Linked DNA regions of Homo sapiens. The protein of the gene in region 1 interacts with the protein of each later gene in a pairwise test. Each region holds a gene or a part of one and is shown on either strand. Other genes may lie near its edges.

What was found.
Region 2: the proteins of GRK6 (region 1) and ITGA5 interact in a two-hybrid assay, tested with the Homo sapiens proteins (one large-scale study listed by BioGRID and IntAct).

What each region holds. Positions count from the first base shown.
Region 1 is NC_000005.10:177,439,838-177,443,699, forward strand, and holds the end of GRK6 (G protein-coupled receptor kinase 6), read left to right. Parts: intron 1-76; exon of another isoform or gene 77-194; intron 195-862; coding exon 863-1,000; intron 1,001-1,081; coding exon 1,082-1,216; intron 1,217-1,407; coding exon of another isoform or gene 1,408-1,413; exon of another isoform or gene 1,414-1,516; intron 1,517-1,897; coding exon of another isoform or gene 1,898-1,899; coding exon 1,900-1,953; coding exon of another isoform or gene 1,954-1,990; 3' UTR 1,991-3,054; downstream 3,055-3,862.
Region 2 is NC_000012.12:54,405,767-54,409,379, forward strand, and holds part of ITGA5 (integrin alpha-5 precursor), read right to left. Parts: intron 3,587-3,613; coding exon 3,466-3,586; intron 3,189-3,465; coding exon 3,127-3,188; intron 3,036-3,126; coding exon 2,990-3,035; intron 2,470-2,989; coding exon 2,344-2,469; intron 2,111-2,343; coding exon 2,066-2,110; intron 1,927-2,065; coding exon 1,883-1,926; intron 1,741-1,882; exon of another isoform or gene 1,631-1,740; intron 161-1,630; coding exon 104-160; intron 1-103.

The DNA.
Region 1 (3,862 bases):
TAGCATAGATCAGTGCTTCATACCTTTTTAAGGCTGAATAATATTCCATTGCATGGATAGACCACATTTTCCTTACCTGTTCGTCAGTTGGTAGACATTAAGATTGTTCCCACTTTTTGGCTGTTATTGCTGCTGTGAACATTCCTGTACAAGTTTTTGTGTGTGCAGATGCCGCCATTTCTCTTGGTCTATACCTAGGAGTAGAATTACTAGGTCATATGGTAATGATGTTTAAGCTTTTGGGGAACTGCCAGACTGTTTTCCAAAGCAGCTGTACCATTTTACATGACAATGATTTTAATTGACATCTTAATTGAAGGATTTAGAAAACAATGTTAAGATAAAAAAAGAAGGTGGCCGCCTGGAGCTGAGGTGGGCTCCCAGTGTGGGTCTGGGGAGGTGGAGCAGTGGGAGACCGTGCCAGTCCTCTGATTGGCTGGGAGAGAAGACGGCAAGTCCCAGGTCATCGCAGGGCGGGGAGCCAGGGAGTCACCAGCTCCAGGCTCTGCGTGGTGGTGCCCAGCGGAGGGGCCGGCTGAGATTCAGCCTGTACTCCCCGCCCCAACTGCATACCCAGGAAGCTGTGGGCAGGCGAAGGAGGTGCCTGGCATTGGCCTTTACACAGCCTCACAGTCATTGAGCAGTGAGGAATAACGTACGCAGTTCACAGAGGGGAAAACCAGGCTTCGGAGAGAAGGGCCTGCCCCACTTAGGAAGTGCGTGGGGCACCTGGTTTCTCCAAATCAGAGAGCTGCTGGTGTCAGGCAGCACTAGGCCAAGACCCGAGGCAGAATCAGGGCTGAGCTGCCTTCGCGTGTGCGTGTGTGTGTTTCCTATCTGACCGTTGCCTCTGTCCCACCAGCCCCAGGCCATTTACTGCAAGGATGTTCTGGACATTGAACAGTTCTCTACGGTCAAGGGCGTGGAGCTGGAGCCTACCGACCAGGACTTCTACCAGAAGTTTGCCACAGGCAGTGTGCCCATCCCCTGGCAGAACGAGGTGGGGGCCTGCCCTGCTGGTGGGGTGGGCTCCAGGAGGCTGCCCTGGGGACAGCTGTCACAGCCGCCTGCTCCTCAGCAGATGGTGGAGACCGAGTGCTTCCAAGAGCTGAATGTCTTTGGGCTGGATGGCTCAGTTCCCCCAGACCTGGACTGGAAGGGCCAGCCACCTGCACCTCCTAAAAAGGGACTGCTGCAGAGACTCTTCAGTCGCCAAGTAAGCCCCAGCAGCGGCCTACCTGGGCCCCTAACCTGGCTCCAGGGGACGGTGGGTGGGAGGCAGAGCCGGTGCCCGCATGCGCTGGGAGTGGGCGTCCTCCAGTCCTGTTGTGGTGCCCAGGGTCTCTGGCCTCATTCCCGCCTGTCCCCCACCCCTGGCTGGGCTCATGGCCTCTTTTCTCTTTCCAGAGGTGAGCAGTGTGGGCTCCCCGTGGGTTGGCCTTGCTGCCTGGCCTCGGGGAGCCACGGGCAGCCCTTCCATGGCAAAGGCAAGATGTGGGAGAAAGAAGTCTGGTGCCCGCCCCACTCCCCCTGCCCACTGCTTTGATCCCCTGCACCCTGGCCCCTTCGAGCTGCCAGCTTTGCTTCGCTTGTCTCCCCGTGCCCTGTCTCTGCCAGCCCCAGGGGAGAGGGCTGGGCAGAGGCCTTGCCCTGGCAGACCGTGGGATCTACCCAGCCCCCTTACTTCAGTCTGTTGCCGGCAGCCTCTGCAATGACGCCCACCCACGTGTGGCCTGAGCTGCTGCTCCAGGCTCCTTGTGGAGAGGCCCCTCCCCAGAGTGCACCCCTCAGGCAGCTCCTGGCCTGCCCTGGCAGGGTCGGCCCCATGTGACGTCCCTCGTGGTTAATGGCACCTGCTCTGCCTCTCTCCCTCCCTCCGTGTCTTCCCCGTCCCTCCAGGATTGCTGTGGAAACTGCAGCGACAGCGAGGAAGAGCTCCCCACCCGCCTCTAGCCCCCAGCCCGAGGCCCCCACCAGCAGTTGGCGGTAGCAGCTACTCCGAGCGCCGTTTACAGTTTTGCACAGTGATCTTCCCCATTGTCCACTCAAGTCGTGGCCTGGGGAACACAGACGGAGCTGTCCCCAGTGTCCTCCGTCCCTCAGCCCCTGGCCTGGCTGAGTTTGGCAGGGCCTGGGCCATCCCTGGGACAAAGGTGCGTCCCTTCAGCTCTTCTCCGTGGAGCTCGGGGCTTTCTGTATTTATGTATTTGTACGAATGTATATAGCGACCAGAGCATTCTTAATTCCCGCCGCAGACCTGGCGCCCCCGCCTTGGCTCCTGGGGGCAGCCAGCCCTGGCTGGGAGAGCGGGAGCTGGCAGAGGAGCCACTGCCAAACTCAAGGCTCCTCTGGCCCAGCTTGGATGGCTGAGGGTGGTCACACCCCTGAGCCTTCAGCACTGTGCTGGCCACCCCGGCCTCTGAGTAAGACTCGTGCCTCCCCCTGCTGCCCTGGGCTCAGGCTGCTACCCTCTGGGGCCCAAAGCTGTCCCTTCTCAGTGCTTGTCAGCGCTGGGTCTGGGGCCTCTGTATGCCCTAGGCCTGTGCCAAAGTGGCCAGAGATTGGGCTGCCTGTGATACCCATCAGCCCACTGCCCCGGCCGGCCCAGATAGGTCTGCCTCTGCCTTCCAGCTCCCACAGCCTGGTCCCTGATACTGGGCTCTGTCCTGCAGACACCTCTTTCAGAAACGCCCAAGCCCAGCCCCTAGGAGGGGGTGGGGCATCCCTGGTCAACCCTCAAACATTCCGGACTCCCCTCATAACAATAGACACATGTGCCCAGCAATAATCCGCCCCTTCCTGTGTGCGCCTGTGGGGTGCGTGCGCGCGCGTGTGTACCTGTGTGGGTGAAGGGGATAGGGCGAGGCTGTGCCTGTGCCCCAGGTCCCAGCCCTGGCCCTTCCCAGACTGTGATGGCCATCCTGGTCCCAGTGTTAGGGTAGCATGGGATTACAGGGCCCTGTTTTTTCCATATTTAAAGCCAATTTTTATTACTCGTTTTGTCCAACGTAAGCTGCCACATGTCTCTGTGTGAATAGTCCGAGCACAAACCTGGCTAGCCGCCCCTGCCTGCCTCTTTCTTGCTTCCGGTGCTCCAGGGGTCTTCCTGCTCCCCTGGCCCAGCTGGAAGCGGGAAGGGATTGGAGGTGGGCCTGGAGGGAAGCAGGGTGTGCCCTTCCGAGGCCCAGGAGCCCCCAGGGCTGACTCTGAACTAGCCTCTCCAGACAGCCAGGCTTTGGTAGCCTTTGGGCTCACCCAGTGGGTTTCCCAACTTCCTAAATGGGATGGGGCCTAAGGAAAGAAGCCTTGGGTACCCACTGGGATGTGGGTCTGTTTCTGACTGCTGGTAAGGCGGGCCCCGTTGGTGTCCTCCCCTCCAAGGCTAAGGTGGCCTGGCTGCCTAAATGTGGACGTAAGAGTAGGGTGGGAGCTGTGTAAGGAATGTCTGCCCCAGGCCTGCGTTACCTGGACGCCAGCCATGTACGGGCCCCGGGCTGAGGCACGTGCATCATATCCACCCCTCTGTTTTGCCCTTGACACATTATGGGCAAAGACCTAGACAGTGGGTGACGCTGGCAGATAGGCTGTGGCCAGTGTGGGAGAGTTCTCTGAAGACGGTGGTTGAGCCGGCCTCGAAGTGGACATTCACCTGGGAGGAAGGGGGACTGGGAGGCACTCAAGGGGAGCTTCCTGCCTGGGCTCTGGGGCTGAGAGCTTGTTGCCTACCAGTCTGTCCCAGATCTGGCAACCCCATCACTGCTCTATAGACTCCCAGTGTCCCCAGCTCCCTGAGAATGCCCCGTAAGCCCCATCAAGCTTGTTCCTGGCCTCTGGACTGGGCACCCAGTGCTGCAGGAGCCAT
Region 2 (3,613 bases), on another chromosome or scaffold:
ACAGGATCAAGAGGGGCTGGGAAGTTGGGCTGACATTATTAGGTCAGGGCTGGGGCTTCGTTGACAGAGGCCAAGCTGGGGTGGGGTTGAGGGGTATCCTTACCTGTTCCCCTGAGAAGTTGTAGAGGGATCGAATGTCTGAGCCATTAAGGATGGTGACCTGGGAGATGAAGAGATAGGCCCATTGGTCCTGGACTCCCAGAATATCCCATGGTTAAAGAACAGATGTGTACAGGACACCCAGGGGCAGGCATTCCTTAGAGACGCAGACCACTGTCCCTAGCTCCCTCTTCAGCTTTGCCCTCATATTCCCACCTCTATGCCAGGTAGTTCCACCCTATGTCTGCTTCACTATTTTTCTCCCTATCAATCACCAACCACTGACAGATTTTGTATTTATCTGTTCGTTGTCCCTCTCTACCCACTAGAATGTAAGATCAATAGGGGCAGGAACTTGATTTTGTTCTTTGCTTTCTCCTCAGAACCTAAAGTCATGCTTGGTGAGTAGTAGGCACTCAATAATAATTATGACTGAATGTGTGCTGGTGCCTCAAACCCATCACGTTCAAAACCTAAGTCATCCTCATCCTCCAGTCCCCCGAACCACAAACACCATTTCTCCCCTATATTCCCTTAGTGACTGGCCCCACCAGGCCTCTTGAATCCTGGTGTGAGCCCTTTCCCAGGACTGCTGGACAGATGTCTTGACAATGTCCCTGCCTCCAGCTCTCCCAGCAGATCTAGGAGGCTACCTCTGGCTTGGAAATCCAGTGGCCCCCTGCAGTCACTGCCCAAAGTCTCAACTTCTTGGCTGGTCCTCCAAAGCTCTGGAGAATCTGGCCCTAACCTATCTGTTTTTGCTCAACCTTTCCATATTCTACTCATCCTCAATCAGCTCATGAGTCTGCTAAGTTGGGCTGAAATTGTTTCCTTTTCTTCCACCTCATTCATGCTCCTGCACAGGATGCCCTCCTGCCTCATCTCTGCTGAACCTTCATAGAACCTTCTCTCATCTGTCCTCTTCCTTTTTAAAAATTTAAAATTTTTATTTCCTGACTCCCCAAACTTGTTACCATCCTTTTCCTAGAAAGGAGATTATTCTTTCCCCTAAACTGCTATGCCACTGTATCCACTTTGCTGAAGTTTACCAAAATGCAGAAAGAATGCTGATTTTGGATTAAGAGAGACCTGATTTTAAACCTACTTACTAACTGGGTGATCTTAAGCAACTTACTTGGTCTCTTAGAACCTCAGTGTTCTCATATGCAAAATACAGATGATAATATCTACCCCATAGGCTTGTTGTGAAGAATAGAAATCATGAATAGATAGTGCCTGATGCACTGAGTAGAGAATGAATAGTTGCTCCACTTTAGATCATAATTGTATGTGTGTCTTATCTAACATACTTGATTAGAAGCATCTTATAAGATGGGGTATGATACCTTATTCATCTTATCTCTTACCTTGCCTTAATAAATGTTGTTAATTGAATGAAATCCGATGGCACTCTTATCTGTATCTTTTAAAAAGCACTTGTCCTGGTCTAATAATAACATCTGCCAGTTGTACATTGCCTAACAATTCACTGAGTACTTTCACATGCATTTTCTCATTTCATCCTTGCCAGAGCCTCGTGAGGTCAGAACGATTGTTATCCCAGTATACAGAGAAGAAGAAGGCTCAGAGAGGTTCAGCAGGAAGCAGAGTATGAATAAAGAGCAGAATGATTCTGCCAGAGTAAGTGCCAGAACTTGAATGCCAGTCTGCCTCCAGAGCCCATGTTCTGATCCACCTTTTTGAGCCCTTGCAAACTGCCATGCACGGTTCTTTGTGATTAGGCAGGGGAGGAGAGGAAGTGAGGGGTCAGGCTGGGTCTTACATAGCCGTAAGTGAGGTTCCCTTTGGGCACACCAGCAACAAAGTCTGCAAAGAGAAGAGAAAGTTGTGACCTAAGGGTGGGGAAAGGGAAGCAGATAATGGTAAGTGGCCAAGTTCATGGGCTCTCTGGCCCTGTGCCTCTAACCATCCCCCTCCCTTGGCCCCAGCCTGGGGACACACTCACCTTCTGTGTCATCACCACTGAATTCACCAACAGCCACAGAGTATCCTGGGGGACAGGGTGGGTGGATGTTAGGATTCCTGCTTTGAGGACCCCTCTGCTCTGGCCTATCCACCAATCCCTTCCCCACCCCTACTGGGCCTTCATAGTCAGCAGGCACATGACAAGTATGGCAGGGGTGCTGGGGATGCCTGAGTAGGAGAGGGGAGGCGAGGGGGTGAGTGGGGACAGGAGCACTTGAGGTTCTCCCTCTGCCATCCCTTCCCCACTTGCTTGCTCACCTAGGTAGCTGTCATCATAGATGGAACTGGCCTGGCGAGTCTGCAGCTGCCCCTGAACCAGGTTGATCAGGTACTCGGGGTAATAAGATTCTGCAATCTGCTCCTGAGTGGCAGACAGGATCTGGCCTGGAGAGAGTATGAAGAGGGAGTAGATGGAGAGGAAGTGGCAGAGGGGGCTTGGGACTCTGGGGGCTGACTGGGTAGTATTTCAGAAGTCTGGTTCAAGAAAGGGAAGCATGGGGAGGGTGGTGGCATGTAAGCTTCAGGAAAGGAAGAGGAGAATTGGGAGTAGGGTGGGAGGCTATGTGCCAGGGGACTTAAAGAATGGCAGAAACAGGCAGGGCGCGGCGGCTCATGCCTATAATCCCAGCACTTTGAGAGGCCAAGAGGGGTGGATCACGAGGTCAGGAGTCCAAGACCAGCCTGGCCAAGATGGTGAAACCCCTTCTCTACTAAAATTACAAAAATTAGCCAGGCGCGGTGGCAGGCGCCTGTAATCCCAGCTACTTGGGAGGCTGAGGCAGGAGAATCGCTTGAACCTGGGCAGCAGAGGTTGTGCCACTGCACTCCAGCCTGGGTGACAGAGTGAGACTTCGTCTCAAAAAAAAAAAAAAAAAAAAAAAAGAATGGCAGAGACAGGACTTACCTTGCCAGAAATAGCTTCCTGGTCCACCTAAAACCACACGGCCAGTCTGTGGGTGAAAGGAGGGGAGTCCAACATCTGGTCCCAATCCCCCCATGTCCACCACCCACGGCCCCTTCTCTCCCAGACCACTCTCTCACCTTGGTGAACTCGGCACTGAAGCCTCCTTGGCAGTAACCCTGTCCTGCTGCCCAGCTGAAATCTGTGAGGGGAGAAGGTGGTGAAAATGAGCCCTGCATAGATGGGTCATCCAGGAAAGAAGAGAGGGCATAGGGAAGGAGGTGGGAGAGAGAACCAGAGAAAGGGCCTTCCTGGACCAGACAGTAAGCATAAAGGCTAACGAACTGGGTTAGCCTTTATCTTAAGCAACCTAGAACCTCATGGGGGCACATGGTAGGTGCGAGTCAACCCTAAGTATGTGAGACACTTCAAGTATATGAGAAGGCAGACATGGGGCACAGGCCCCCTCTTGCCCCTACCTGAGCGGCAGGGTGCATACTCCAGAATTCGGGTGAAGTTATCTGTGGAGAGGTAGCAGGTGCCCACGGGGTCGCTCAGTGGCTCCTTCTCTGTGCGCCAGCTGTACAGTGGAGCGCATGCCTGGGAGGGCCCAGGAGGAGGGGCCTT